Regions from separate parts of the Homo sapiens genome. Here all the other regions are linked to region 2. Evidence: fine-mapped expression QTL. A gene starts in region 2. Each other region holds a variant in brackets. All regions are shown on one strand. Distances are between the middles of the regions.

What was found.
Region 1: its variant is fine-mapped to the expression of COX15 in whole blood (TOPMed, PIP above 0.99). The same link has a PIP of 0.9 or more in blood mononuclear cells.
Region 3: its variant is fine-mapped to the expression of COX15 in whole blood (TOPMed, PIP 0.98).
Region 4: its variant is fine-mapped to the expression of COX15 in subcutaneous fat (GTEx, PIP 0.95).

Annotation. Positions count from the first base shown.
Region 1 is chr10:99,687,167-99,695,382 of GRCh38, forward strand. ENTPD7 (ectonucleoside triphosphate diphosphohydrolase 7) reads left to right here. Exons shown (of 13, transcript NM_020354.5): 7 at 1,528-1,584; 8 at 4,219-4,352. It also overlaps a transcript of COX15 not described here. Among named protein-coding and RNA genes, the nearest start is that of ENTPD7, 32 kb to the left of the region's middle. The variant A/T (reference allele first, on the strand shown) is at 3,997.
Region 2 is chr10:99,728,794-99,737,009 of GRCh38, forward strand. COX15 (cytochrome c oxidase assembly factor COX15) reads right to left here and starts at 3,334. Exons shown (of 9, transcript NM_078470.6): 1 at 3,167-3,334; 2 at 760-941. The coding sequence starts at 3,256. CUTC (cutC copper transporter) reads left to right here and starts at 3,441. Exons shown (of 9, transcript NM_015960.3): 1 at 3,441-3,616; 2 at 7,453-7,524. The coding sequence starts at 3,556. RefSeq lists an enhancer at 3,036-3,255.
Region 3 is chr10:100,080,800-100,089,015 of GRCh38, forward strand. It overlaps CPN1 (carboxypeptidase N subunit 1), which reads right to left and starts at 1,070. Exons shown (of 9, transcript NM_001308.3): 1 at 604-1,070. The coding sequence starts at 826. The variant C/T (reference allele first, on the strand shown) is at 3,842.
Region 4 is chr10:99,594,662-99,602,877 of GRCh38, forward strand. LOC124902589 (small nucleolar RNA U13) reads left to right here and starts at 7,119; the gene lies at 7,119-7,219. RefSeq lists an enhancer at 1,105-1,605. The variant T/A (reference allele first, on the strand shown) is at 4,267.

The sequences.
Region 1 (8,216 bases), 42 kb before region 2:
AGCCTCCCAAAGTGCTAGGATAACAGGCGCAAGCCACTGCGGCCGGCCCGTGATTCTATTAGTTCATTTTTCTTTTCTTTCTTTCTTTCTTTCTTTTTTTTTTTTTTTTTTTTTTTTTGAGACAGAGTCTCGCTCTGTCATCCAGACTGGAGTGCAGTGTCGTGGTCTCGGCCCACTGCAACCTCCGCTCCCTGGTTCAAGCGACTCTCCTGCCTCAGCCTCCCGAGTAGCTGGGACTATAGGCGTGTGCCACCACGCCTGGCTAATTTTTTGTATTTTTAGTAGAGACGGAGTTTCACTGTGTTAACCAGGATGGTCTTGATCTCCTGACCTCGTGATCCACCCACCTCAGCCTCCCAAAGTGCTGGAATTACAGGTGTGAGCCACCGTGCCCAGCCTATTCATTCATTTTTCAAAGCCTTGGCCACTGCTATTTGGATTTGTCCTGTGTATCAGCCAGTGGCTAATCTGGAACCTGGGCAGTGGCCTAGCCTGTAGTTCAGCTCTCAGAGCTGTTTGGATATTGTTTAGGGTCAGATCCATGTATTTGTAGCTTGGAGGTGAGCCCAGGGGTTCATACACAACTTTGCTCCCTACTGTCTGTGATCCCTCTGCCACTTTCTGGTTCCTTGGAGCTCCCTTTCATGATCCTCCTGTCAGAATACCAGGGCTTTAATTTGCCCACTCTCTGCCATGCACTTCTCATGACTGCATCTGCATCCAGGGCCAAGCGGTAGGAGGACAGAGGGAGCCTAAATAAACAATAGGATTTGTTTCACAGTCTTGAAGCTACAGCTTCTCTGGTCAGAGAAAAGAATTCAAAGCCCTCAGAGTTTTAGGTACCTGCTCAAATTCTACCTCTGTTGCCTAAGGTTAGAGAGAACAAAATAAGAAAGAAAAAAAAAGCAGGAGATTTCCCTTATTTTCTCTGAACTTTTGGCATTCCTTTTTCTGTTCTTTGGACCAGAAAATGAGTTGAAGTTCCTCTGTTCACACCTGGTGTTTACTTTCATGTTTCAAGCTGCTCTTAAGTCTAGACCAGGTAATATCTGAGGGGGAAAAAATGGGACACTCACTACTGGCTTGGTGGTAGTTTAAACCCTGGTCTCTTTCCCGGTGTGCTCATTATCATTTACTTTCAGAGTTTCCAGAAAGCTGCTCCATGCATTCTATCTAGAGTTTATATTTGTATTCAGTGGGGAGACAAGATTGCCCAGAACTAGAACTCCAAAATTTACATTTTTTCTTTTTTTTCGATATCTTCGTGACATTCAGATGATTTATACTTCTTAGACATTTGTTATACAATTAATTTCTATTCATTGAGGAAATTTAGAAGATGCAAATAATTTTAAAAGGGAAAAAAATCACAAGATGAAAGATTTGAAATTCCTACATTGAGAGTATGGAATAAAATACTATGATTACTTTTTCCAAGAAAAAGAGGAAAGAGAAGCCCTAAGGGAGAGGTGTATACATGGCATAGCAGTAGAGAATTAAGTGAGGGCTTTTCTGTTTCTTACTTAGGGGTTTATGCATGGATTGGAATCAACTTTGTTTTGGGAAGATTCGACCACGAGGATGGTGAGTAATATTGTCTTTTTATGACAGTTTACCTAAGGGCTGAAGATTTAAGTTATAACCTATCAGTAGCATGTAAATGCAAATTTTGAGTTGTTTTTCTTTTTTCAAACATAAGATGCTTCATTTTCCAGTCCTAATTTGCTTTCTTTGATTTCTTTTTAACTTTTTAATATGGAAAGTTTCAAACATTCACAAAAGTAGAATAATAAAATGAACCTCCATGGACCCATTACCCAGGCTCAATATTTACTAATGTTTTGCCATTTCTCCCCCATATCCCCCCATGTATTAAAGGTTTTTTTTTCTCATTGAATGTTTTAAAAAGCAAACCCCAGACATGTAATTTTTATTTTCATGTATGTCAGTATGTATCTACAACAGATAAGGGGTTTCAAAATGAACAAAAAATATATCCATAATGCCATTTTTAAATTTAATAGAATTAACAATTTCTAATATCATACAATACGTATCTAATACCCTATCCAGGTATAGATTTTCCTGATTTTCTCAAGAATGTTTATTCGTAGTGGGCTTGTTCAAATCAGAATCTGAACAAGGGTCATGCATTGCATTTGATTAATATGTCTCTTTAGTCTCTTTTAATCTATAATTGTTAACCTTACCACCTCACTCCCCTGCCTTTAAAAGCAAGAAAAAATTGGATCACCTGGTAGAAAGAATTTGCCACATGCTAGATTTGATTGACTGCATCTTTGTGGGGTTAACATGTTTTCTTTAACATGTTTCTTATCCCCTCATATGTCCTTTAAACTGGAGGTCAGATATAGATGTTTGATTAGACTCAGATTCAATTCCATCTGCAAGACTAAATCATAGAAGGCGCTGTGTGTTTTCCACTACTCACATCAGGAGTTTTGTAATGTCTGGTTGACTCACTTTTTGTCATGCTCAGACTGATCAGGTATTGAGAGTTCAAGTATTATCAGCCTGATCTAACTTAGTATTAAAATTCCTTATCTGCCTTTCATGGAATTGTGGTAATAGCCAATTGTGATCATTGCTTGGACATGTTTTTCATTAGAGATTGCAAAATGGTGATATTTCTAATTCTGTCATTCCTTCTGCATTTAACAGCTAGAATTTTTATGTAATGAACTTTTCTTGATCAACTCTTTGGTTACCCTGACATATAGTTCTTATGGGAAAGACAGAATAAATCCTTGATTCTTTTTATTTATCACATTTCTGAATAATGAGTTGGTGTCTAGCAACTTCCAAAGGTAACCAGTGAAAAAAAAGTTTTAATTATTATTATGAACTCATGGATTTTAATATATTAGATGCATTAGAGCCCATCACATTATTAGTATTTTAAGGAGCATCTTTAGGTTGGCTGCTGTATCCTTTTAATATGACCCCAATACTCTTTTATATTCCCCTTGCTATCTGGTACAGCAATGTATTCCAGGGTCATCTTGTATACTTTCTACCCTAGACCTGGCATTGGCCTGTTTTTAAAAGAGCCCTGGTTTCTTTTAGTAAAAGATGGTATTTAGAGATTATTGGTCCAGATACCACAGGTGGTCATTACTCCTGGGATATCATTGCTTCTAGGCCTTTCAGTGAACACAGCTAGGAAATATGTATTTTTTAGAAAGAGAAAAATAAATGAGTTCATAGTCATATTTCTGACTCATATGTAAGATTATAGGGTGCTATTAATTTATTTGATTTTTATACCTATATCCTTTTTGTTCTGTTATGCTGAATCTTTGTTCCTAAAGATATTGACATAAACATTTATTTGTTTTATTCCACAATATGTTTCATAATTTTTTTTTTTTTTTTGAGACAGTCTTGCTCTGTCACCCAGGCTGGAGTGCAGTGGTGCAATCTCGGCTCACTACAACCTCCGCCTGTCGGGTTCAAGCGATTCTCCTGCCTCAGCCCCCTGAGTAGTTGGGATTACAGGTGTGCAGCACCATGCCCGGCTAATTTTTGTGTTTTAGTAGAGACAGGGTTTCACCATGTTGGTCAGGCTGGTCTCGAACTCCTGACCTTGTGATCTGCCTGCCTCAGTCTCCCTTCATAATTTTTAAATAATAAAACCAACAATATTGTTAACAAGACTACTGCGATGTAGCTTAAGATATTTGTTTCTTTTGTCCTTAGGCTATATCCTACTAGGGATACGTAGTCAAAATGTCATGTTTAAGTAATTCACAAGAATTATTCTTTGTGTAATATATAGTTGATTCAGTTAGTATACTTGTTTGCTTTCTTTTTTTTATTTTGAGACAGGTTCTCTGTCACTGAGGCTAGAGTTTAGTGGTGCGATAATAGCTCACTGCAGCCTCAAACTCTTGGGCACAAATGATCCTCTGGCCTCAGCCTCCTGAGTAGCTGGGACTACAGGTGTGCACCACCATGCCCAGCTAATTAAAAAAA[A/T]TTTTTTTTTTTTATGAGAGTGTCTCACTATGTTGCCTAGGCTGGTCTTGAACTCCTCGGCTCACATAATCCTCCCACCTTGGCCTCCCAGTGTTTTGGGATTACAGGTGTGAGCCATGGCACCTGCCTGCTTTCAAATTTTCAAGGGATTGCTGTTTTGGGGGTTTGACTTAATTTTATTTTTTAATTACTAGGGCCTTTTTGTTCTCTTATTTATTTCAGAATCAGATGCTGAGGCTACCCAGGAATTGGCAGCAGGACGGAGAAGGACAGTAGGGATACTGGATATGGGAGGAGCCTCTCTCCAAATTGCTTATGAAGTTCCTACCTCAACCTCTGTCCTTCCTGCAAAGCAGGTACTTTACCTTTTAGGGAAATTTAGTTGCTAGGAATGCTAGTATTTGAGAAGGAAGGACACTGTCTTTGGACTTAGACCAACCTACCTGGCTCTAAATATTTGTTCAGATACTTGCTAGCTTGCGTTATCTTGAGTAGGTTACCTCTCTGAGCCTCAGCTTCCTCCTGTGTGAAAAAGGAATAATAATAGTATCTACCTCATAAAGTTATGAGGATGAAATAATACCATGTTTGTAAAGCATTTAGCAAACTGTCCAGCATAAGTGTTCAATACATTTTAACAATTATAACTATACTAGGTATCTCCTGCCATTGCTGAGGATAAACATGATAATGCATTTACATTCTGGAGCACAGTATTTGATACATATCTATTGTTCAATAAATGTTATTCCCTTTCCCCTTACTGATGATTCCATTCTGGGCCTTCTAATAATCCTTACCCCACTAGAATGTAAAGAATGTATTTTGAGGGAGAAGTTTCATCCTACACAGACACTTTTTGTACAGCCATTATGTACACCTATTATGTACACCCATTATGTGCAAGGAATAGACAATATTATGTACAAGGAATAGACATGTGAGTTACACTGTCCCTAAAAACTTATAATTTATCTGTCAGTGGAGACAGCTTGTGATATCAGGGAGACTGTAGCAGTGCTTAACTTGATCTAAACCAGGGCTTCTCATCGTTGGCACTCTTGACATTTTGGGTCAGATAATTCTTTGTCATCAGGGGTTATCCCATGCATCATATGATATCTCTTGCCTATACCAGATGTCAGTAACAACCCTCCCCCTTCCAGTTGTGACAATCAAAAGTGTCTCCAGACATTACCAGATGTGTGGGGCAGGGTGGAAATTGCCCATCATTGAGAACATCTGGTTTAAACAGAGAGCTGTGGCAATATGGGGACTGGCAGCCAACTTAGCTTGCAAAGTTGAATGGGAGCCATTCTTGCTTCATGGAAGGTAAAGTATTTACCTGGGCCTTGGATGAGAGTAGGCTTTTTTTTTTTTGCAGAGTGGAGGCTGAGGGAAGGCCACCTGCATGGAGGGAACACTATATACAAAGGCACAGAAAAAGCAGCACAGAGGCCAGAATGTCCAGGGAATGACGAATAGCCTTTTGCAGTATAGGATTTTCAGGTGTGCTAGTAGTTAAGACTGGGAAGATAAGATGGAGCTAAATCATGAGCAGTATTGAGTGCTATCATAAGGGGACTGGCTTTTATTTCCATAGATAGTGGAAAACCACCAAAAGTTTTTGAGTAAGGCAGTCACATGGGCCTCAGTTTCATTTATAAAATAATTAAACTGTGAAGGTCCTTCTCAGCTCTGAATTTTGTGATGATGTCAGTTGTGTGACTGTGATCTGATCTTTTTGTAGTGAAAAAATTTTTGTGTCAGTAGGAGAAAGAATATAGGTCACGGAACCTTGAGTGAGAAGTAATAAAGGGCTGAGTTAGACAAAGTAAGTGGAAATGAAAGGGAGGGGACAGATTTCAGGGGATAGTTTGGAGTGAAAACCCAATGTAATTGAGCGATTGATTGTGGTAGTGTGAGTAGGGTGGGAGGATGGCCAGCAGTGCTGAGGATCTATCCTAGATAACCAGAAGACTGAGGAACCCAGTAACTGAGAGAAGAGCAACAGGGGTAAGGGCAGGGGTGATATTAAGCAAACAGTATTGTCCTGAGAGATCTGGATGAGAGCGTCTATCTGGTCTTCTAGTTCAGAAGTTGTAAAACTAATGACTTCAATTTTGGATATATTGAGTTTAAGATACCCAAGGAACATATATGTCAGAATATCCACAGGACTGTTGGAAATGTGAGTTTAGCAGTCAGCAGAGAATTTCATGCTGGGGTTGGAAATGTGGGGGACTAACTAGGTTGTGATACTTTTTAGTCTATATTCGTTAGTATGTATTTAACAGGTAAAACGAAGGCATGGATCTGATACTAAGAAATAGGTGACAAGCGGGACTGGGGCTTCAAGTCTTAAAGAAATGACTTTTGTGTGTGTGCAGATTTAGAAAGGAACATGGTTATGGAAAGCAACACTGGTACGGAATGCATACTTGCAAGCAACAAATTAGATTTACATATAGCAGGCCGGGCACGGTGGCTGACGCCTGTAATCCCAGCACTTTGGGAAGCCAAGGCGGGTGGATCACCTGAGGTCAGGAGTTTAGGACCAGTCTGGCCAACATGGTGAAACCCCGTCTCTACTAAAAATACAAAAATTAGCTGGGCAGGGTGGGCAGGCACCTCTAACCCTGCTACTCAGGAGGCTGAGGCAGGAGAATCGCTTGAACCTGGGAGGCAGAAGTTGCAGTGAGCCAAGATCGCACCACTGCATTCCAGCCTGGGTGACAGAGTGAGACCCCATCTCAAAAAAAAAAAAAATAGTAACTACACATAGCAATATAATGGCTCTTCAAGATGAATCTTAGTGCTTGGTAAAAATGAAAGAAACTGTGAGACAATGGCATTTAAAACATTTTAAATAATCCTGAATGCCTAATATATTTTTTTGTACAACTCACAAAGTTATGTACATTCACAAAGTTGTGCAGCCACCACTATTGAATTCCAGAACATTTCATCGCCCCAAAAAGAAACCCCATATTCACTCCCCACTCATTTCCCATTAGCAGTCACTCCTCATTCTCTCCTCTCCCTACCCCTGACAACTATTCATCTACTTTCTCTCTCCAGTGGATTTGCCTATTCCGGACATTTTGTATAAATGAAATCATACAATATGTGGTGTTTTATGTCTGGCTTCTTTTATTTAGCAAAATGTTTTCAAGGTTCAGCCATCTCGTGGTATGGGTATTTCATTCCTTTTTAATGGCTAAACAGCATTCCATTGTATGACCAACCATGCTGTATTTTGTTTATCCATTTATCAGCTGATGAACATTTCAGTGGTTTTCCCTTTTTGGCTATTATGCACAGTGCTGCTGTGAACATTCATATACACATTTTTCTATGTACATAAGTTTTTTTGTTTTTTTTTTTTTTTGAGATGGGGTTTCACTCTTGTCACTCAGGCTGGAGTGCCATGGCACGATCTCGGCTCACTGCAACCTCTGCCTCCCAGGTTCAAGCGATTCTCCTGCCTCAGCCTCCTGAGTAGCTGGGATTACAGGCACCCACCACCATGCCTGGCTAATTTTTGTATTTTTAGTAGAGACGGAGTTTCACCATGTTGGCCAGGCTGGTCTCGAACTCCTGGCCTCAAGTGATCCACCCTCCTTGGCCTCCCAAAGTGCTGGGATTATAGGCATGAGCCACCATGCCCACCCCAGTTTTTGGATCTCTTGGTATGTACCTTGGAGTGAAATTGCAGGGCACAATGGTATTTTTCACAAATTAAAAAGAAATACATTCAAAACAAGAATCCTCATTTTATAATAATACATATATACAAAAATTATACATAACACATTAGAATGGTTGCCCATGGCAGAGAATGGAATGAGATTAAGTATGAAGATAAAAGAGAATAAATAAATAAAGCAAAAGAGAGGCTTTGCCATGATAATGTGGAATGAGCTGAGGAATATGATTAATTCAGCCTCTGCCCTTGAGGTTCAAGAAAAAAATATAGCACCTTTTCATTGGCGGTACAATAAAATTGAACTTTCCCAATCCCCAAACCTGTCATAAGGAACCTTAGGGCTTCTTGGATAATGTTAGAAAAGGCCACAGAACCGGGCACAGTGGCTCACACCTGTAATCCCAGCACTTTGGGAGGCTGAGAAGGGCTGATCATGAGGTCAAGAGATCGAGAACATCCTGGCCAACATGGTGAAACCCGTCTCCACTAAAAATACAAAAATTAGCTGGGC
Region 2 (8,216 bases):
AGGACAAATGACTAGAGTTTCCTCAGCAACTAGAAGAGGGGGAAAGGGAGGAGTGTCTAAATCTATAGTCTCTTGATAGATTTAAACAAACCTAAGAAACATGAACCAATTGTGATGTACAGAACTTCTTTGGGTTTAATTCAAACAAACTGTAAAAAAAGTTTTGAGACAAACTTGGACTCTGATTGAAAGAGAAAAGATACATAAACAATGCACAGGTACCAGTTAAGACATAAACCAGTCTTTATAGAAGGCTCCTACTAATAAAACACTCAACTGTTCTATGGCAGGGCAAGCCATCAGACATGTTCCTTCTTTAAGGCCTCGGTTTCTCCATCTATACAATGAGGGAGCTAGACTAGATGCTCTGTAAAATTCCTTTCTCCAGCTGGGCATGGTGGCTCATGCCTGTAATCCTGGCACTTTGGGAGGCCGAGGTGGGCAGATCACCTGAGGTGAGGAGTTTGGATCAGCCTGGCCAACATGGTGAAACCCTGTCTCTACTAAAAATACAAAAAATTAGCCAGATATGGTGGCACGCGCCTAGTCCCAGCTACTTGGGAGGCTGAGGCAGGAGAATCGCTTGAACTCAGGAGACGGAGGTTGCAGTCAGCCGAGATCACACCACTGCACTCCAGCCTGGCCAACAGAGCAAGACTCTGTCTCAAAAAAAAAAAAAAAAAAAATCCTTTCTCCTCAGTCAACCTGTGCTTCTACTGATGATCCAAATACCTGACTCACTACGAGCAAATTACTTACCTAGTTACTCCACCAAGAATAACTGCTCCAGCCACTGTTCCACTGCAGACCAGGAGCCATCGGCCCACCACCCGCTCAGCAGCCTTTGAGGGAAGGGACACTGTACCCCTTCCAGATTGCAAAGCTACTTCAGAGATGGTGCTGTATTGCCCTGGCCTCAAAGGGCGCCTGATGCAATCACACTAAAGATCAAGATAGACAAATTACAACTGGAGAAACAGGGAATGGCTGCTACCCACACTCAACCCCATTCTGATTAGCGCGAAGTACCATAGCATCCCCACAGCCATGTCTTGTTAAGTCATCATCTCTTATCTGGATTACTGCATCAGCCTTCCAACTGGTTTTCCAATTGGTTTTCAAATCTAGCCTCACTCAAACCTATCCCCAACTACATGAATCTTCTCATCTCTGAATACTTCCCTCAGACTTCACTCTACTTACAGATATGGAATATTTTCTTTCACCTCTAGGTCTTTCAACATTTCTCTCTGGCTTGTACACTTCCTTTCCCCTGATTAATAATACCTACTGCAGATCTCCGCTTACATGTCACCTCCTCTGGGATGTATTCCCAGGCTCTTCAAGGTCTGCAATAGGTCACTCCCACAGCACACTGGAAAGCCCTTAATACACTGTAATGTACAGTCAAGCATCACTTAACAACAGGGGCACATGTTCTGTGAAATGCATTCTTAAGCAATTTCATCATTGTGTGAACCTCATAGAATGTACTTACACAAATCTAAAGGCTGGGTGTAGTGATTCACACCTGTAATCCCAGCACTTTGGGAGGCAGAGGCAGGGAGATCACTTGGGTCAGGAATTCAAGACCAGCCTGGCCAAAATGGTGAAACCCCATCTTTACCAAAAATACAAAAATTAGCTGGGCATGGTGGTGTATGCTTGTAATCCCAGCTATTTGAGAGGCTGAGGTGGCAGGATCACTTGAACCTGGGAGGCAGAGGTTGCAGTGAGCCAAGGTCTCACCACTGCACTCCAGCCTAGGCGATGAAGTGAGACTCCATCTCTCAAAAAAAAAAGTACTTACAGAAATCTAGATGGTATCGCCTACTACACCCCTGAGCTATATGGTATGACTTATTGCTCTTAGGCTATAAATCTGTATGGCATATTATGTACCGAATACTGTAACACAATGGTATTTGTTTATCTAAACATAGAAAAATTACAGTAAAAATATGGTATAAAAGATTTAAAAATGGGGCCAGGTGCAACGGCTCAAGCCTATAATCCCAAGGCTTTGGGAGGCCAAGGTGAGAGGATCACTTGAGGCCAGTAGTTCGAGACCAGCCTGGGCAATGTAGCGAGACCCCCTATCTCTATTTTTTCAAAAATTAGGCACAGTGGCACACACTTGTAGTCTTAGCTACTTAAGTGACTGAGGTAAGAGGATGCTTGAGGCCAGGATTTCCAAGCTGGAGGCTGCAGTGAGTTATAATCATGCCACAGCACTCCAGCCTGGGTGACAAAGTAAAACGCTGTCTCTAAAAAAGAAATTTAGAGAAAAAGATTTTTTTTTAAAAAAAAGGTACACTTGGAAAGGCAGCTCCATTATAATCTTATGGGACCATGACTGTATCTGTGGCCTGTTGTTGACCAAAATGTTGTTATGCAGCACATCACTCTACCTTCAGGTTCATCTGTTTGTATCTCCCACTAAACTATGAGCTTTGGGGTGGCAGTGTCCGGTCAGTCTTGCTCTCTCCCTTCTGCTAGCTTTGTTTCTAACACTGTTCCTTTATATAATGAGACCATGATAAGGATTTCGCAAATGAATAAACTGACTTCCTCCAGGGCAGGAGTCTTGTAATATTTATCTTTCTTTTTCCAGTTCCTAATATATAATAACCACTCAATAATTACTAGTTAAGCAAATGCATGCCCTCTTCTTACTATATCCCTGTGAGTCCAAAGATCCATGCTCGGTTTCCTATTTCTGATTAACTGAGTCACCTTTAGAAAAGTAACTTTAAGCCTCAATTTCCTTCTCTGTAGGATGCAGTAATACTTCCTCATCTGACTACTTGGAACTTTTTAAGCAAAAATAAACTATATGGGTAAAAATTACTCAGCTTTTACCATGTGCTAAAGGCCTGATGTATATTAAAGAATGTAATCCTCATAACAAACCTTAAAGTAGGTATTGTTATCCCCATTTTACAGATAAGGAAACTGAAGAACAGAAAGTTTAATTAACTTGGCCAATACCACACAGCAGGTCAATGTTCCAGATCTGAACCTAGGGGCTCTGATCTGAACCTATGCGTTGTGAGTGCACTGTAAGGAGCTCCGGAAACGTGATGTGGGGCTCTACATTATCTTTATCCCGGCCCTTTCACTCCATCCCCGCTCCCGCGACTCGGAGTCCGCTGCAGTGCGGTACCTGTGCTCTAGGCGCTGCCCTAGGAGCCAGGAGCGGCAGATACTGCCTCCCCTTCAAGGCCCTCAACGGCGGAAAGAGCAATCGCTGCATACTGATGACAGGGAACAGCCACCTCTTCCACAACCCAGGGCTCTGTGGTCTCCCTCCTCCGCCAAGGAAAAGAGAAGCACTTCCGGGTCGGGCAGCGGGAGCCCCGCCTTCTCTGGGGACCGGAGCGAACAGAAGTGCGCCTGCGTTGCGACTCCGCTTTCGCGGGGGCTGCTGGGGCGTAGGTGTCGGGGACGCGCGCACGGGCGCGCGCAGCTGTTGACGCGCTTCTTAGCTGGTGCGCGCCGGAGCCCAAATTCCAAGTGGAAACTGCAGGCGCACGAGGGAGGAACGCGTGGAGCATGAAAAGGCAGGGGGCCTCCTCTGAGCGAAAACGAGCGCGGATACCGTCCGGGAAGGCCGGTGCGGAAGGTGGCGGGGGAGGGGACGGTCGGCCGAAGGCTCCCCGGGGCGGGCCGGCGGGAGTCGTAGTCAGTGGTGATTTCTTCTGGAGTCGTTTCCTCAGCTCCTTCCAGCCCCTTGGGCGGCACCTTCTATCTTTGAGGCGTTAAAGGTGTGGAAACGGAGGGCGTGACGAGGGGCAGGTAGCGAGAATGGCTCAGCTGTGGAGCCAAGGTTCGAGTCCCGGGGTCCCCTCATAACGGCCCTGCGACCTTGTGCAAGTTGGTTAACTTCAGCTTCACGTTTTTTCCGTCGCCACACGAGGATGCCAGTACCGCCCGCACCAGCAGCCAGTACTCCGCTGGGATAGTTAATTGTCGAGCGCGGAGCCCAGTTCCTAACCTGCAGTTACCTGTAGCTGCCACGGCGGGGACGGGGCTTGGTCCCCAAAGTCACGCAGCTACCAAGTGGCCGAGCTTGTGGCTGCTCCAAGACCCGAGTTCTTCCTGAGTGCCAGGGTAGCATGGCATGGCAGGTGCCAGAGAATTTGGCAAGTCCCTCTTCCTCCGTGAAGAGGAACCTTCCTAAAAGTTATCAAGAATCCTCAAAGATTTTTTCTTTATGTGGATTACATCTATCTATTTTGACTGTATTAGAAATTAAAACAAATTTTTTTTTGGGAGGCCGAGGGGGACAGATCATCTGAGCTCAGGAGTTCGAGACCAGCCTGGCCAGCATGGTGAAACCCCGTCTCTACTAAAAATACAAAAATTAGCTGGGCATGGTGGCAGGCGCCTGTAATACCAGTTACTCGGGAGGCTGAGGCAGGAGAATCACTTGAACCCGGGAGGCGGAGGTTGCAGTAAGCCGAGATCGCGCCACTGCACTCCACCCTGGGCGACAGAGCGAGACTCCGTCTCAAAAAAATAAAAATAAAATTAAAACAAAATTTTAAAATATTGATTAGAAAATAACCATAGTAAACCCATTACATATTGACATAATATTTTTTTGAAAAAGAAATATTCCTAAACAACAACAACAAAAAAAGCAAAAGAGTGGAAATATATTTTTGCAAGTTTCTTCAGTATATCTTAATGGAAGACAGCTGGATTCTCATGCCCGCTGCTTCATTCAGTCTAACATGTCAAGTAGCCTCTTGAAAACGCCTCTTCACGGAGGTTGCAGTAAGCCGAGATCGCGCCAATGCACTCCATCTTGGGTGACAGAGTGAGACTCTGCCTCAAAAAAGAAAACGCCTCTCACTTGTGAGAGAATTAAAGTGAAAAAGTCAAATAAAGTGTTAGAATTATTAAGAAAACGGTTGTAGCCCTGCAGACTCTGAAAAGTCTCAGAGGCTCCCAAAGCTCTCTGGACTACTACACTTTGAGAACTGCTGCTGCTTCTCCTTTGATCCTATAACTTTGTTGCTTGGGACAACTGCCTTGCTCTGCCTTCTGTCATAGCCTTTTTTATACATCTCTCCATCTTCTCCTGCCTAGGGTCCTTTCTTGTGTGAGGCAAATAGTCCCCCGGCAGCATCAGCATCGGCCAGTGCCACTGATCTGACAGCTGGTCTGGTAGCTACCAGGAAACTCATGGAGTTAATAATGCAGAGCTGTTGGTTAAGAGCATAGATTGACACTTAACCCTTTCACAGTTTGGGACTGATAGTATTTTTTTTTTTTTTTTTTTTTTGAGACGGAGTCTGGCTCTTGTCGCCCAGGCTGGAGTGCAGTGGCCTGATCTCAGCTCACTGCAACCTCCACCTCCCAGGTTCAAGCAATTCTCCTGCCTCAGCCTCCTGAATAGCTGGGATTACAGGCGCCCGCCACCACGCCCGGCTAATTTATATACTTTTAGTAGAGATGGGGTTTCGCCATGTTGGCCAGGCTGGTCTCAAAATCCTGACCTCAGATCCGCCCACCTTGGCCTCCCAAAGTACTGGGATTACAGGCGTGAGCCACCGCGCCGGACAGGGACTGATAGTCTTAAATAAGTAAGGCAATTGCAGTTTGATGTTAGCAGATGATAGGTTTTTGTTTTATTTGTTTTTCAAAGTAAAAATTGCTTTTTTAAATTATAAAAGCAATATTGGGTAGAAAAAATAAAGCAATAAAGAAAAGTAAAAAGAAGAAAATAAAAATAATTTCAAATCACACCCCACCAGAAGTGACCATTACCAGTATGTGAGGAACATTCTAGTAAGTGTCATTACATGAAGTGTGCATTGTTTCGTTCATTTTTTTAAATTATGTGCTCCCGGAAAAAAACTCAAAACTCTGTTTACATCACACTTTGTAATATAAATACATTAATTTTGTTGTAATTATTCAGCTTTTAGTAAATATTTGATTATTGTGTACCATGGTAGATACTGTGCTTGGTGTGGGTGATGATAAAGATTTCTCACATAAAGACCTTACTTAGGAGGCCAGACGTGGTGGCTCATGCCTATAATCCCAGCACTTTGGGAGGCCGAGGCTGGCAGATCGCTTGAGTGCAGGAGTTTGAGACCAGCATGGGCAACATGGCGAAACCCCATCTCTACAAAAAATACAAAATTAACCAGGTGTTGTGGCACATACCTGTAGTCCCAGCTACTGAGGAGGCTGAGGCACAAGAATTGCTTGAGCCTGGGAGGCGGAGGTTGCAGTGAGCCGAGATCATGCCACTGCACTCTAGCCTGGGCGACAGAGCAAGACTCTGTATCAAAAAAAAAAAAAAAAAAAAAAAAACAAACTTAGGAACTCTAAGTCAAGTAGAAGTGATCAGATATTTATCTGCATAAATAATAAAAGGTAGAAAGTAATTCATATTTTAAGAAGGAACAATTGGGGTTTCATAACTCATGAAGAGTTAAATGAGTTCAAAAGAGGGACATAAAATTTTCTACTTTGGGAGACAGAAAAAATCATGGAAATGTTCCTTGAAAAATTTTATTCAGAGATGAAGCCAGAAGGAACTCTGGGTTGAGGAGAAGGCATTGGGGAGCCAGCGGTAGGGACTGGAGAGATCTGGAAGCATAAGAAGGAATGAGACAGAGTATCACTCTGTCACCCAGGCTGGAGTGCAGTAGCACAATCTTGGCTCACTGCAACCTCCACCTCCTGGGTTCAAGCGATTCTCATGCCTCAGCCTCCCAAGTAGCTGGGATTACAGGCGCATGCCACGATGCCTGGCTAATTTTTGTATTTTTAGTAGAGACAGGGTTTTACCATGTTGGCCAGGCTGATCTCCAATTCCTGACCTCATGTGATCCACCCACCTCGGCCTCCCAAAGTGCTGGGATTACAGGCATGAGCCATCACACCCGGCCAGATAACTAATACTTTTTGATTCTTGAGACTATATACTTTACATGAATTATCTAATTTAATCCTCACTACTCTGAGGTACATACTAAAATCTACCTTGTTTTATAGAAAACTTAAGTAACTAATCTAGGATCTCACACTAAATAGTTGGTGGGACATGGATTTGAAGTCTGTCCTGCTTTTAAACCTATATTCCTTATAAAGAAGTTTAAATATATTCTGCAGGCATTGAGAAGCATTGTAAGAATCTCAGCTGGAATGTGATGATGAGGTCTATGTTTTAGGAAGATTAATTTGGCATTCGATAGACATTTTCCTCAGTATAATTTTTTATACATCTGTCTGTGTACCTATTTCAGTCTATAGGCATCAATTCAATAATTAATGTGATATTTTATTGCATTCATGGGCCCTAGTGTACTTATCTATTACCTGTTATTGGACATTTGCATTTTGGCAGCAGAATGTAAACCCTTTGTGGTAAATTGGTCTGGATGGATAGAACCTTTATGAACTCTTACCATTCTCCATGTATTTTAGGAGCAGCAAATGGATTTCTCATGGAAGTTTGTGTTGATTCAGTGGAATCAGCTGTGAATGCAGAAAGAGGAGGTAAGAGAAATCAGATAGTGAATGACCGTTGGCTACCCTTTTAAGAGTCTGAAAATTAATCCTGTGTGCTTATCTCAGAAGCCCTTGTGATCTCTAAGCATCCCTCATAATGCTTTCAGAAACAACCAATTAGAAACCCTACTGGAAAATTATGATCTAGTCTCTCCCTCTCCCCAAGTGGGTCACATTTTAAGTCAAGTGTCGACAATAGTACTTACTCAATGACTTGATTTTTTATTGAACTTAGCAAAATTTTAATTTTTTTAAACCATTAACTTAAAGATGACTTCAGAGACTTCATCATGAGGAATTTTATCTTTTTTACTTTTGAACATTATCTATTTTTCCCTCAAAGTTTCTGTTGTACTCTGAACCTGTTTTAATGGGAAGCACAGACATTTCCATCATCTCAGGTTCAGAAAAATTAAAAAAAAATTTTATTATGGAAAAATAAACATATACAAAAGTAGAGCAAATAGGATAATGAAGCCCCATGTATGCATCACTCATCTTCACCCATTTTCAACACATGGCCAGTTTTTCATTTATTTCAGGGGTCAATAAACTTTTTCTGTGAAGAGCTGCATAGTATATATATTTTCAGCCTTGCTGGACACATTTGATCTTTATCACTTATTTTATTTTTAAATCTTTTGAAAATGTAAACATCAGCCGGGTGCAGTGGCTTACAC
Region 3 (8,216 bases), 350 kb after region 2:
AAAGGATCACCTGAGCCCAGGAGGTGGAGGCTGCAGTGAGCTGAGATCATGCCACTGCATTCCAGCCTGGGCAACAGAGCCAGACCCCGTCTCAAAAAAATAAAAAATAAAAAAGAATCCAGTAAATAAAACTGACACCCAAGTCCCCAAACTCTCTCTGGAATACCACACTGTCACTCCCCGAAGAGATTCCCCTATACCCTTCTAAGTTTCCTGGCAGAACTAGAAGGGCTCATTGTTTTTGCCTATGTCTCCTGAGCCATTGGGTGGGGAAAGACAGAACAATAGTAAGGGGAAAAGAAAGGAAATGGGGGAAATGAAGGGATATGGGACATGAGCAGGGAAGAAGACTCATCTTTTACCATTAAAGTTTTGAGCAAACAGAACCCAAAAAGGAGGAAAGATCTGAAGGCTGAAGGAGGGTTATAGCTCCCCAGAGGCAGTGGCAGTTTGAGGGCTAAGAGGGAAATAGCACAGGCTGAGAAAGAGATAATACCTTGTAGGCGGAGGCGTCCACGGACCACCCCAGAAACCACTCCAATTACTGGATTTGCAAGGGAAAGGCCCTGCCCCACACACCCTCAAGAGCTGTTCAGAACTTACAGGGCTCGTGGATTCCAGGGTGGTCGCTGAACTCCAGCACGTAGAGGTGTCTCCCCTCCACGCTGCGCCCAATGCTGTAGACCCGCGTGATGCCGGGGCATTCGTTTTGCACCTTGTACAGCGTCCGCACAAGATCATCATAGCGGTGGTGGCGAAAGGTCACCGGGGCAACCAACTTGAAGAGAAGGAGGAGGTGGAGGAAGACTGAGAGCAGGTCTGACATCTTGCTGGGCTTTTTCAAAGAGAGCCACTGAAACGCGCCCCACCTCCTTAAACAACCTAGCCTCTTCACCCGCCAAAATCCAAGGTCCACCTAGCTTCCCGCTTGTAAACACCAGTCCAAATTGGAAGACGTTCCCAGCTGTCCGTCCAAGGCTGGAAATTCTTTATGTCGTTCTGGAATAGCCACTCATCTCTCCTCCCTCACTCCCTTTCTTTCTCTAATCCAGGAAAGCCTTTTGAAAGGTTTTTTGCACTTCCCCAGATGGGTAGTTTCACTGATTCTGGTTTACTGGTTAACTGGACTGTAAACAGGCTTCAATAAATAGCTGCTTATAACCCTTTGATTCCTGGAGAATTTTTTAAAACTTGGCCTGTGCCTGTTCCTTTTATTACAACTTTCAAAAAGAGTTCTCTGTCCCTTTTGATCCATCCCACGTACTGCTGCCTGCCTATCTTTCTGAAGCATGGCTGTATTTTGTCCTTTTTTTCCTCAAAAATCTTTCAACAGATGCCATTAAGAAAAGGAAAAGATTAGCCTCGGACTGGGAGAAAACAATTGTAAATCATGTATCCGATAATACCCCCATAATACGTAAAGAATCCTTACAATACAATAAGAAAACAAACAACCCAATTAAAACATGGGCAAAACATTTGACCAAAATAGATATACAAATGGCTAATAAGCACATTTAAAGATGTTCAGTGTCATTAGTCATTAAGGAAATACAAATTAAAACCACATGAGATCCAGTCATGGTGGCTCATGCCTATAATCTCAGCACTTTGGGAGGCCAAATTGGGAGGATCACTTGAGCCCAGGAGTTTGAGATCAGCCTGGGCAACATAGCAAGACCCCACCTCTACAAATATTTTTAAAATTAGCTGGGTGTGATGGCATGCCTGTAGTTCCAGCTACTAGGGAGGCTGAGGCAGAGAATCACTTGAACCTGGGTGGTGGGGCCTGAAGTGAGCCATGATCATGCCACTACACTCCAGCCTGGGCAACAGAGTGAGACCTCATCTCAAAAAACAAACAAACAAAAATCACACATGAAATATACTTTACCTCCACTAGAATGGCTACAATAAAAAAGACAGACAATAACAAATGTTGGTGAGAATAGGGAGAAACTGGAACCCTCATAAATAGTGCAGCCAGACCAGGTGCAGTGGCTCATGCCTGTAGCCCAGGACTTTGAGAGGCCGAGGCAGGTGGATCACGAGGTCAAGAGATCGAGATCATCCTGGCAAACATGGCAAAACCCCCTCTCTACTAAAAATACAAAAATTAGCTGGGCATGGTGGCACACGCCTGTAGTCCCAGCTACTCAGGAGTCTGAGGCAGGAGAATTGCTTGAACCTGAGAGGAGGAGGTTGCAGTGAGCTGAGATCACGCCACTGCACTCCAGCTTGGTGACAGAGCGAGACTCCATCTCAAAAAAAATAAAAAATAAAGATAAACAAATAAATAGTACAGCCAGTTTGGAAAACAGTTTAGCAGTTTCTTACAAGGTTAAATATATACTTACTATATAATACAACAGTTTCACTCCTAGGTACCTATGCAAGAGAAATGAAAACACACATCCACACAAAAACTTGTACATAAATGTCCATAGCAGTATTGTTCACAAGAGACAAAAAGTGGAAACAACCCAAATGTCCATTAACCACTGAGCGGATAAACAAAATATGGCATATCCATACAATGAAATAGTATTTGACAATAAAAAGGAGTGGAGTGCTAATATATTGTACAATGTGAATGAATCTTACACATGCCTGGTAAAAGAAGCCAGACCCAAAACACCACAAGTGGACACAAAATTTCTTTTTAGAGTGATAGAAATGTTCTAAAATTAGATTGTGGTGATGGTGATGTCTATACAACTCGATAAATATACTAAAATTCATTGAATTGCATACTTAAAACAGATGAATTCTATGATATGCAAATTGTATCTCAATAAAGCTGTTTTTAAAAGGGAATAAAAAATAAGTACAGCCCTCTGAAAGAATTAAATATAAATTTACCATACAACTCAACAATTCCATTCCTGGGTATGTACCCAATAGAACAAACTTGCCCACAGAATGTTCACAGCAGCATTATTCATAATAGGCAAAAAGTAGAAACTACCTAAATGTCTATCAACTGGTGAATAAATAAAATATGATATAACCATACAATTGAACACTATTCAGCAAAAAAAAGAATAAAATGCGACTACATGCTACAATGTGGATGAACTTCAAAAACACTATGCAAAGTGAAAGAAGCCAGACATGAAAAAAACACATAATGTATAATTCCATTTATATGAAATGTCCTGCAAAGGTAAACCTATAGAGACAGAAGGTAAAATAATGTTCCCCTGAGGTTGGGGATGGGAATGGAAATTAACTGTAAATGGGCATGAGGGATTTATTTTCTAACGGATGAATCAGCCACTCAAACTGGATCCAAGGAAGATCTTATTGGAGTGATGGAGATGTTCTAGAACTGGGTGATGGTAATAGTTGGTCAGCTTGATAACTTTACTAAACATCATTTAATCATAAACTTACCGGGTACGGTGGCTCACGCCTGTAATCCCAGCACTTTGGGAGGCTGAGGCAGGTGGCTCACTTGAGATCAGGAGTTCTAGACCAGCCTAGCCAACATGGTGAAACTCCATCTCTACTAAAAATATAAAAATTAGCTGGGTGTGGTGGCACCCGCCTATAATCCCAGGTACTCAGGAGGTTGAGGCAGAAGAATTTCTTGAACCCGGGAGGCGGAGGTTGCCGTGAGCTGAGATCATGCCACTGCACTCCAGCCTGGGCGACAGAGAGAGACTTCATCTCAAAAAAAAAAAAAAAAAATCATTTAATTGTAAACTTAAAAAGGGTGAAATTTGTGGTATGTAAATCAGACCTTAAAAAATTGGTTTTTTAAATTTATTTGTTTATTTATTGAGAGAGAGTCTCACTCTTTTCACCTAGGCTGGAGTGCAACGGTGCAATCTCCACT[C/T]ACTGCAACCTCTGCCTCCTGGGTTCAAGTGATTCTCCTGCCTCAGCCTCCAGAATAGCTGGGATTACAGGCACCCGCCACCACGCCCAGCTAATTTTTGTATTTTTAGTAGAGACAGGGTTTCACTATTTTGGCCAGGCTAGTCTCGAACTCCTGGCCTCAGATCATCTGCCCACCTCGGTCTCCCAAAGTGCTGGGATTACAGGCATGAGCTATTGCGCCTGGCCTAAAATTGTTGTTTTTAAAAAGCAAAGTTTCAATGAACATTCATGTACTGTCGTGTAAAATTCAAATGCCTCAGATAGCCTTTTTGTCCTTGCTACCAAGTCCAGTTGTAACTTGTCATCCTGTCCCTCATTCTAGTGCAGCACTGTTGCTCCACCTACTATCTTTGGAGAATGCCCCTGCCTTCCTGCTTTCACTCATGCTATTTCCCTAGGTAGCTCAATCCAGCTCAAATTCTGGGTCTTCCTTACCTCCCCTTGTAGTTGCTGCTACAATCAGTCTTTGTACCTCCAATTCCTATCACTTTCTCTGTTATGCACTACTCACCATGTTAGGTGTTGGGTGTCAGGGTAGAGTGCAGCCCTGCTGGCACACTGCTCTTGCTCTCCAGGGTGATCTGCAGCCCCCTAGCATAGAGCTGGGCACAGGTGCTCAACATTTGTTGAATGAATGAGTGAGTGAATGAATGAACACACAAATCCATTATTGACTTTCCCCCTTGCATCCTGCTGCTCCGTCTTTAGCAAACTTTCCCAAGAAAATCCTATGTTTTTATAACCAGTCAGTAAAGACAGCGATTCCATCTTGGATATACTGGGTGAACACTATGTGGCCAGGCCAGTCCGGCTCACAGAGAGGTGGCCCAGATAGTCACAGAGGGTTGGCCCTGATAAGAACTAAACTGGCAGTACCAAACATCTGCTGCCTATACCCACAGCTCAAATCCCATAATTTTCTGAGGAGAGCCTGTCCCCCCAGGTGGTAAAGGTAGGAATCAAGGCATCACTAAGGCTGTCACACATTAAGCCTTTGATCTAGGACAGTATCTACTGTCATTACTGAGGGCTTGGCTTAGTAACTCCCCAGTGTGCCTATGGTTCTTTATGGGGCCTCACTCATGCCAAACAGATGAATCCCATTCTCCGGGAGAGGAATGCACCCTCTCTACCTGTTTGCACAGTGGATTCTTGTAAACAGGGAATATCCTCTGTCAATGAGAAGTATCAGGGATGAGGTAGCTATGCCTTCCCTGGAATTCCACAGAGTACCAGAGTGATGCCTGCAAGCCAGAGGGCATACATCGCCTCTCAAAGCAACTAGAAGTAAAAGGTTCATGGCCTTCAGTGTCAGAGGGATATGATTTCAAATCCAAGTGCAACCCTTTCTTAGGCCATTTGACCTTGGGCAAATGACTTAACTTCCCTAAACCTCAGTTTCTTTCTGTATAGGATAGGGAAATATAGCTCCTCCCTATGGGTTGTTGTGTGGATTAAATAAGATGTTGTATGTAAGGCCTTTTTCACAGTGCCTAGCACATAGCAAGGGCTCAATAAATATTAGTAGTAGTAGAAATAGCAGCAACAACATCATTAAGCATCTACTTTGTGCTAGAGACCATGCCAGGTGATGGGGATAAAAGTCATTCATTCAACAAATATAGTAAAGTCTTTACTACTAAAAGCCAAAGGCTTTACATATAATGTCCTTTTTCAATCTACAACAAAACCAACAAAGATCCTGCCCATGTGGTGCTTATATTCCAGTGAAGAAACAGACACAATTAAGAGTGAAAAAGCAGTCTCTCTCCTCACAGATACAGAAAAGGAAACAAGCACAACACAGAGGGATGAGTGATGAATATAACCACATAGGACCACCAAGCAGGTTCACCTCACCTAGTTTTGGGAGGTCAGAGAGGGCTGGCTGGAGGATCTGCGGGAGTGAAACTAACAAGATTATTTTTAGAGTCCTGTCTCCCACTGTGGTATGCACAATAGTGACCCTCCCAAAAGTGTCCACACCCTAATCCTTGGAAACTGAAATGTTATGTTACATGGCAAAGGGGAATGAAGTTTGCAGAAAAAATGAAGGTTGCAGCCCAACGTGGTGGCTCACACCTGTAATCCAAGCACTTTGGGAGGCCAAGGCATGAGGATTGTTTGAGCCCAGGAGTTTGAGACCAGCCTGGGCAACATGGCAAGACCCCATCTCTACAAAAAATCAAAGGTTAGCCAGGCATGGTGGTGCATACCTGTGGTCTCAGCTACTCAGGAGGCTGAGGTGGGAGGATCGCTTGAGTCCAGGAGGTCAAGGCTGCAGGTGAGCCACGGTCATGCCACTGCACTCCAGCCTTGGTGACAGAGTGAGACCTGTCTCACTGGCCTCAAAGATGGTGGAAGAGTACCACGAGCTACAGAATGTGAACACCCTCTAAAAACTGCAAAAGGCAAGGAAACGCATGCTCCCTGGGACATCCAGCAAGGAACACAGCTCTGCCGGCACCCTGATATTAGTACAATGAGACCCATTGCAGACTTCTGATCTCTAGACCTGTAAGATAATACATTTGTGTTGTTTTAAAATTTGTGCTCATTTTTTTAACCACAGCAATAGGAAACAAATACACCCCCAAATACCCACACAACTGGGGCTCCTGGGGAGAGGCTGGAACAGAAAGCTTCATTGTCTGACATCCTTCCAAGGTCTTGATTCAAATCTTGGGCAGCTAGCCCTGCAAATGGCTGTATAGGTCTGGACCAAATGGTATCATCAGAGTTCTTTCTGTTTCTTCTCCTCCTCACCCTAATTTTAGGCATTTCCTTCTTTCTGGGTTCTCAGTGTCCTCAATGTTGTCCCCGCCTGGACAGATGCATCTCCATTCTGCCTTAGGCAAATATTAATAACACTTTACAATTCTATGTTGCCTTACAGAGTACCAACTACTTCTTTATTTATTCCTCCCAAGGAGGAGGGTACCGTAATTTCATTTTAGAAGAGAAATTTTCCCAGAGTCACATAACTAGTAAGTGGTGGAGGAGGGCCTGGACTCTGGCACAGTTAGCCTAACGTCCTGCTCAATGCATTTCAGTGAATTCAGATATGGAACAAGGGTAGGAAGCCACCAGAGACAGATTAGCAAAGAGAGTACGTTCAAATCTGGAAAGGGTTGGAAGGAGACAGAAGGATATTTACCCTTAAGTAGGGACATGGGGGCAATTGTCCTCTTTCCTTTGTCTTCTTTCCCTAGACCTAGACAAAGGAGAGAGGAGAAAGGGGAAGGGAGAGGGTGAGAGCAAGAGCAAAAGAGCAAGCAAGAGAGAGAGAGAGACAGAGAGCAAGCGAGCGAGAGAGAGAGAGAGAGAGAGAGAGAGAATGCCAGCCCTGTGTAGGCAAATGAACCAACCTTCCCAAACCAGAACTCTACTTATCATAGTTTTAAGATTTCTTTCTTTATATCCCCAGCAGTAACTCTGCAGAGAAGTCTTGATATAATTTAACCCTGCTCAATAAATGTTAGTTGACTGCACCTATAAATGAATCAAGAGTTCAGGCTGGGTGCGGTGGCTCACACCTGTAATCCCAGCACTTCGGGAGGTCAAGGCAGGTGGATCATTTGAGGTCAGGAGTTCAAGACCAGGCTGGCCAACATGGTGAGACCCTGTCTCTACTAAAAATACAAAAACTAGGCAGGTGTGGTGGCGTGTGCCTGTAATCCCAGCTACTTGGGAGGCTGAGGCAGGAGAATCGCTTAACCCTGGGAGATGGAGGATGCAGTTAGTGAGATTGCACCACTGCACTCCAGTCTGGGTGACAGAGTGAGACTCCGTCTTGAAAAAAAAAAAAAAAAAAAAAAAAGAGTTCAGCTTAGTTCAAATCACCAATCACTCTTTGAGAGATATTTGGATTTTAAGTGTTATGAGAGGGGTGGAGCAAAGGGAACCCAGCAAAGTCTGGAAGGCAAGGAAAGTCAGTCCTCAAGCCAGACCAAGCCCTTTCCAATTCTCTTTCCCATCCATCTCATACTTCTGGTCTTAGCACCACGGTCAACAACACTGAGAGAACTTTCTCAATCATCTCTTCTGGAACTTTCCCTGGTCATGCTGTCTGATCATCCTGCTTATTTCAGTCAGTATTGGGCTGCCAATCTGTAATTACCTTGTTTATTCGCTTTCTTGTTTATGGACTGCCTCTCCCAGTAGAAGCTAAGCTCAATGAAGGCCAAGACTATTTTATCCTACTGTTCACCACTTAATCCCAGTACAATGTGCTGAATAAATGAAAAACCAAATGAAGTTATGTCTGAACTGAGATCTGAGATCCTAATGAGGAAATGTTAACCAGATGAAGGGGGTAGAGAAGCTTGGGGTGG
Region 4 (8,216 bases), 130 kb before region 2:
ATATATAATATATATTTGCATACATGTGCTTTGGATAAATTATGAAAGAGGATATACAGGGGCCAGGTACGGTGGCTCACGCCTGTAATCCCAGCACTTTGGGAGGCTGAGTCGGGCAGATCATGAGGTCAGGAGTTCGAGACCAGCCTGACCAACATAGTTAAACCCCATCTCAAAAAAAATAAAAATATTAGCTGGGCGCAGTGGTGCATGCCTATAATCCCAGCTACTCGGGAGGCTGAGGCAGGAGAATCACTTGAACCTGGGAAGTGAAGGTTGCAGTGAACCAAGATTGTGCCACTGCACTCCAGCGAAAAAGTGCGACTCCATCTCAAAAAAAAAAGAAAAGAAAGAAGATATACAAAATAATAACAGTGATTATACATAGTAGAATTATAGATTTTTATTTTCTTCTTTAGCTTTTTACATGTTGATTATATTCATTATAATTTCTATGTGTCATTATTCCTTTTTTTTTTTTTTTGAGACAGAGCCTTGCTCTGTCACCCAGGCTGGAGTCTGGAGTGCAGTGGCAAAATTGCAGCTCACTGCAATCTCCGCTTCCCAGGTTCAAGCGATTCTCCTGCCTCAGCCTCCCGAGTAGCTGGGACTGCAGCCATGCACCACTATGCCTGGCTAATTTTTGTATTTTTGGTAGAAACAGGGTTTCAGCATGTTGGCCAGGCTGGTCTCAAATCCCTGGCCTCAAGTGATTCACCCACCTTGGCCTCCCAGGAGGATCACAGGTGTGAGCCACCACACCCAGCCCGGATTTGATTCTTTAACCAGCTGAGTAGGTGTTATTTTATTATCCCCATTTAACAAAGGAAGTAACTTCCCTAAGTCACACCACACCTTTTATAAGAGGTGGACTTTGACACAAGCCCACATCTCCCAACTGCTTTGATATTTCTTTCCATTCTGAGACCCCATGTTTGTTAGCTTGTTTGAGTGAATGAGTGAGCTCTGAGCCTTCCCTCAACACACACACACCTCTACAGTCCTGTACTCATGTCCCCTTCCTTGCTATTTCCTCTGTGTGGCCTCTGCCAAGCACAACCCCGAACGCTTATGTGGGAAGGAACCCAGAAGGGGGTCTTTACCCAGTACTCAGTCTTTGCAGAGCTGGGAGCAGCCTGCTGCCCCCACAGGGTAAGATGATTTCTTTCACGCTGCATTAGCCTATGAGACAGGCGTTCTGGCATGCTGTTCCAGGAATCCTCATGAAAGGCCTGAAGGGGTAGGGGGAAGCAGGTATTCATTGCAAAGCATGAGGTTGAGCTGCTCTTTCCACCTGGAGGGTGATCTGAGCTCAGCCCACTGCACTGCAACTGGACACCAGGCAGCAACTGGCAGGGAGGTCCTGGAAGAGCTGGTGACACTGATGCTGTGTCATGCTCCTCAGAGGACACGACCCTGCCCTGCCCAGGGATTATAAATGGCTCTCCCGGGTATTGTTGGGTTTCTTTCCTTTCTACAATGAACTAACAGTCTCTGGACCACAGAACTATGGAGTATTTGAGTCATGGGAGGAGAGGAATAGTGTTGGGCAAAGAGACTGGTGGGAAAGAGGGGGACCCGGGCATGTACCCGGGCTGATGGGTGTGCACTGTGGGACCTGGACCTGCCACATGACTCCTCTAGGCCTGCTTCCTTCCTTACCAGATGGCCATGAGCTTCACAATTTTAATGACACCTACCTTGCAGCATTGTTTTAAGGCTTAAATTGGTTTACTTGCTCAACAAATTACTTATTAAGTACCTATTGTGTTCCAGGTCTTGTTCTTGGTGCTGGAGAACAGAAAAAGTCCCAGTCCTCATTTGGGGGAGACGGATGATAAACAAACATATAAAAAACTTCAGACAGCGGTAAGTGCAATAAGAGAAATAAAGCGGAATGAAAGGGATAGAGTGGTAGGGGAGGCTATTTTAGATAAGGAATTTGGGGAAGATCTCTTTGGGGAGGTGAGACTGAAACCAAGACCAGGAAGAAGTGAGCGAGTGAGCCAGGCCAAGCTCAGTAGCTCACGCCTGTAATCCCAGCACTTTGGGAGACCAAGGCAGGAGGATCACTTAAGTCCAGGAGCTTGAGACCAGCCTGGGCAACATAAGGGAGACCTCATTTCTACAAAACCATTTTTAAAAAATTAGCTGGGCATGATGTTTGCACCTGTAGTCACAGCTACTTGGGAGGCTGAGGTAGGAGGATCACTTGAGCCAGGGCAGTCGAAGCTGCAGTGAGCTGTGATTGCGTCATTGTGCTGCAGCCTAGGTGACAAAGCAACACCCTTTCTCAAAAACATATGTATAGGCCGGGCACGGTGGCTCATGCCTATAATCCCAGCACTTTGGGAGGCCAAGGCAGGTGGATCATGAGGTCAGGAGTTTGAGACCATCCTGACCAACATGGTGAAAACCTGTCTCTACTAAAAATACAAAAATTAGCCAGGTGTGGTGGTGCACACCTATAATCCCAGCTACTCAGGAGGCTGAGGCAGGAGAATTGCTTGAACCCAGCAGGCGGAGGCTGCAGTGAGCCCAGATCAGACCACTGCACTCCAGCCTGGGCGACAGAGCGAGACTCTGTCTCAAAACAAAACAAAACAAAACAAACAAACAAACAAAAAATGTATAAACAGGCCAGTTGCAGTGGCTCATGCCTGTAATCTCAGCACTTTGGGAGGCAGGTGGATCACTCGAGGTCAGGAGTTTGAGACCAGCCTGCCCAACATGGCGAAACCCTGTCTCTACAAAAAATGTAAAAATTAGCCGGACATGGTAGTGTGCACCTGTAGTCCCAGCTAGTCAGGAGGCTGAGGCATGAGAACTGCTTGAACCCAGGAGATGGAGGTTGCAGTGAGCCAAGATTGTGTCACTGCACTCCAGCCTGGGCAACGGAGCGAGACCCTGTCTCAAAAAATACATCTATCTAAAAGTAAAATAAATAAAAGATAAAGAGAGAGTGAGCCAGGTGGTATCTGGGGAAGAGCGTTCCTTGCAGAGGGAACAGCAAGTGCAGCAGGGTAGGATCACACGAGACAATGGATATGACAGCCCTGGGCTGTCATGTAAACACAAGGACCCTCCAAGCCGGCCACTCCTCACTGGCCTCCTGAACCTCTGACAGCTAGCAAAGAAGTGACCAATTACAAAAACCTAAGTATTACACTTTACATTTCCAAAGGTCCTGGGTCCCCTCCCGTGAGCACCACTCCAGGAACAGGCAGAAAGAGAATGGAAACAACTTTCCTCATGCCTCTATTACAGCACTTACGTCTCATGATCTCTTTACAAATCAGTCTCACCCCTGGGACTGGGCTCCTGCAGGCAGGACTGCTTCTCACTTCTTAGGGACCCTGAGGGGCACTGGCGAGCCACACTACCTTTGGAATCCTGCGTTGGAACGCTTGTTCTGTCATGTTCTTGCTGTGTGAGTTCAGGCATGGTTTTTTTTTTGCCTTTCTGAGCCTGAGCTTCCTCATCTGTAAGATGGGGGCATTTTTATAGCTAATTCCCAGAACTGTTTTGAGAATCAACTGGGCCCAGCATACTGTAAGTGCAAAAGTGTAGGTAAATTATTGTCATTGCTCACATTCTGAATGCCTGACAGTAAGTGCTCAAAAAATTTGGTAGAATAGAACTCAAGAGTAAGAAAATCCTCCAGGAAGAATTTCATGTTTAGAGCTGCTGCTATTTCGAGGGGATGTGCTTACCCTGCAAGTACCCAGGGAAGGATATAGTCATCTGTCTGAGAACACCTGTGAGACACGACATTGACTCAAGTTCCTAATCTGATCCCTTGCTCCAGAGCCTGTTTTGATGTCCTGTTCTTAGGTAGAAACCTTGTCAAACCATTAACATGATATGAACAGTTACAGTGTCTGATCTTCACTGGAAGCTAAGAAGTAGCATTCACTCCCCCACATATCTTTGGATGTCTTCCTGCTCCCACTAGCCTCCTCTGGAGCCATGTATGGGCCTTTCACTCACCCCACCCTGCCCCTGGCACTGTGTTGTAGCCACCTCTGAGATTTGTGGAAAGCAGTCTTAGAATAAGGTGAGCTAGGCAGAAGATAAAGCAGGAATCTCAGGATTTAGCCTTAAGTTCTCACGTCCTGGAGATGAGACCTGCAAGGACCATCTTGGCAATGTAATTGTGTGGGTTGGAAAAATGGAAAGAAGCAGCTCATCATCCTGGATAAGGGAGGATTTGCGGAAAAGGGAAAGAAGCGCTTGGTGCTTGGATTCTGACAGTAGGCTGATGGC[T/A]GGAGGCGGCTGGGCAGTGGAAGTGGATTCCCAGCGGCTGGCAGGAGTATGTGGCAGACAGGGCTGAGGAAGCTGTCTCCCCGGGGATAGCCTCCTTGCTTGCTCAGATTCCAAGTGACCGTCAGCATTTTGTTTGCTTTCCTGAGACCCAGCCCTGGCATGAAGAAATAATGGTGACCTTGAGACCCTCAACAAGCTGAATTACTAAACTTTGGTAAATCAATGCCAGGAATTGAGAGTGTTTAGCTCAAGTGGGCAGCAGACCTAGGCCAAAATGGCATTACAAAAACATGGAGGTCACTGTTAACACTGTGCACATGAAGTCAAAGTGGAAGTAAGCTATTAAGATCTTAGTATGAGTCAAAAAGGGCCGGCTGACAGTCCTTGGCTATATGACTGGGAGCAAGTGCCTTAACCTTTCTCAACATCAGTTTTCTCATCTATAAAACAGGAATAATAATTCCTGCCACATCTGACTCATAGGGTTCTCATGAGACTCAACATTTGAGCAAATTTAGAGCACATGATATCAAGTGATAGTACATGACTTCCTTTATGTTTCCCGCAGAGAGTGGTTGTGAGGCTCACCTGAGCAGCTACCTGCAATGATCAGCACATAATAGATGTGCAAGAATTATAATTCAATTGTTGCTTGTAAAAATGCTACACGTGAAAATGCAATATAAGTGCACAGAGTATTATAAAGTGTCAATTCTTATTTTCATCTTTTATTCATCTGCTAGCAGATAGGATTAATACACGATCCCACAGTCACCTGTCCAGCCAGGTAAATTTTTCCATCCCTGGTCCCAGGGGACCTCAGTAACTTCTTGCCATCCTCCTTACTCCTCAAGTCAGCCCCACACACGATCTCTTCCTCCTGAAGAACAATGCCTCTTACAGGCACAGGACTCCAGTCCCCTCCAATTTGGTCTTTGAAGCAAGACCTCCCTTTTCTGCTCTCAGGATCAAGCCGCCTCTCCTCCATACCTCCGCTTCTTCCTTGAGCCATGACTGCCAGATGGAGTGCCCTTGTCTCACCTCTCTTCTTTTTTCAGGCTCAACTCTTCTTCAAAATTCATACCCCTTCCTCTGGGAGCTTCCTCTGATTTACCCCACCCCACAGATCACTCAGCTAGTGTGGGCTCGGTTTGTGTTGTACAATTTGGCTTTTGCTGACGCTTGATTTTCTAAACGTTCTTTCAGCCCTGTGGCAGGGACTGCATCTTCTTCTGTCTTCACCTGTGCCTAGTGGAATATACTGTTTAAAGGAGGCAATCCAGGGAGAATATTCCTTGACCAAGTGTCCCTCACCTTATTGTTTGCCTTCCTAGGCCCCTCTCTAGCAGCAGAAGCTCCCCAAGGAGCAGTGCCACCCTTCAATGAAAAATCTTGCTTTAGATGTCAGTGGGGGTCCCTACCTCCCACCATACCCAGGGAAAGCTTTCAGTTAGTGCCTGCAGGGGACTAATTCTTCATGACTCACGGCTTTTCTATTCAGGTATAATTGCTCTTGTTCTCCAATTTGGCAGGGGCCTTGCAGCCAAAAGAAACCTGTGCAGGGAGTAAATCAGAGCATTGGGTCAGTTATCTTTGCAATGAACTGGGGTTTTTCTTCTAGTTTCTTTTTCTTTTTCTGTCTTTCTTTCTTCCTCTTTTTTTTTTTTTTTGAGACAGAGTCTTGCTCTGTCACCCAGCCTGGAGTGCAGTGGCGCAATCTCGGCTCACTGCAACCTCTGCCTCCTGGGTTCAAGCGATTCTCCTGCCTCAGCCTCCCGAGTAGCTGGGATTACAGGTGTGTGCCACCACGCCTGGATAATTTTTGTATTTTTAGTAGGGACAGGGTTTCACCACATTGGTCAGGCTGGTCTCGAACTCCCCACCTCAGGTGATCCGCCCGCCTCGGCCTCCCAAAGTGCTGGGATTACAGGTGTGAGCCACCACGTGCCCAGCCTAGTTTATTTTTCTTTTCTTTTTTTTTTTTGAGATGGAGTCTTGCTCTGTGCCCTAGCTGGAGTGTGGCAGTGTGATCTTGGCTCACTGCAACCTCCGCCTCCGAGGTTCAAGCAGTTCTCTGCCTCAGCATCCTCAGTAGCTGGGATTACAGGCACCCGCCACTATGCCCAGCTACTTTTTTTGCATTTTTAGTAGAGACAGGATTTCACCATCTTGGCCAAGCTTGTCTTGAACTCCTGACCTTGTGATCCACCTGCCTCGGCCTCCCAAAATGCTGGGATTACAGGCGTGAGCCACCGCGCCTGGCCTAGTTTATTTTTCTATGTATGCCTATAGACAGATGCCCAGGCTGTGTCCCCACCCCCACCATGGTGTGGTTCTAGGCATGCCCTGGGAGGACCAGAATCTAAGACGTCTGAGCTGATGTCACTGGTGGGGAAATGCTTAGAAAGAAAGAGCAATCCTGAGTTTGCTTCAAGGTACAGATTTGCTCCCACATTTCTCTTCCATTTTCCTTTGGTTTCTGTTCCCTCTGCATTTATGTGCATGCTCAGCAGTGGACATATAAGATAAAGAAGATCCTGTCTGTCCTGAGAGTCTCACAGTCTGGCAGAACTTCCTACCCCACTAGTGGGAAGCCTCTTAGAGGGTCCCTGGATTCCTGCTCTTCTCTATTGTGCTCCTAAATTTTGAGGTTAAAGATCATTTTAAGAATCTTATGGATTCTCTACCCTTGCTCCAAAGGCAGACATATTCAATATTTTGCATAAAACTCCGAGGGGTTTATAGACCCGGTAAAGCCCATCCACAAAATCCACAAGCTCCACTAAAAAAAAAGTCAACAAGGATGAGAAGGGGGAAGAAACTTAGAATGGAATACAAATAGAAACAAATGCATCCTTTTGTAGCCCGTGAACATGATGATTTGGGTTTTCACACACATGTGAGATGTGCCTCCTTCAAACCTTAAGACATCAGCATGTTACCTGACGTGAAAAAAAAGGAATGAACTTAACTCATTTTAAATAACTCTATTTTAAACAAATAATATTGCGATGCTGAAGGGAGGATAAAAACCAAATAAACAAGCCCAACAAATATTTAATTCTAGTTAGAAGGAGTTTTTTCTGTAGTGATATGGGTGAGCAATTCTGAAATACCTTTTGTGTGCTGTAGAGTTGCACAAATGAGTAAATGTACTGAGGATATTGGAAGCTAGTTCTTGCTGTTGGAGAGGAGAGTTATAAATATGGAGAAAGGGAGGACTAAAATGAATTTTGTGGTGTTGAGTTGGAACTGGAGGTATCTATATGAATCCATGATTTTGTGTGTGTGTGTGTGTGTCTGTGTGTACAGATGTAGAAATTAAGATAAAATATGTATATTTCTTAGCTCTGTGGGCTAAAGGGCCTAGAAGTAGACACTACAGTAGCATTGAGTATACCTGGCACTTGGATCTTGGTTTCTAAATACCATTTCGTACTAAAAAAAAAAAAAAAAAAAAAAAACTAGGGCTCCTTGGAGAAATGACTAATTCTAGGACTGAGAGGGGGAAAGTACAAGATAAGCTTAGAATATCGTGTTGTGCCAGAAAGCAAGGAAGTGCTTTTTAAAAAATGGAGATATAGAAAAAGAACACAGGAATCAGAAGGGACCCCCATTGGCCAAATCTGGGAGTATTCGAACATCAGCATAAATAATGGTAATTATTTATTATCATCACAGTGGTATTACAGCACAATATTACAGTGGTAATATCACTATAGAATAGCCATAGAATAAAATAATCTATGAGCTCATACGAATATAAATAAATAAAAGAGAAGGGATAGCTCTCTCTTATAGCAGAAATGATAACATCAGAATATCATCTTTGTGCAACCATGATTTAGACAGGAATTATCAATGGATGCTAAAACTAGTGGATAGAAGTTTGATAAAGAAGAGGATATGTACATAGATTCAGAGCACCCCCATGAAAATAACTTATTGAT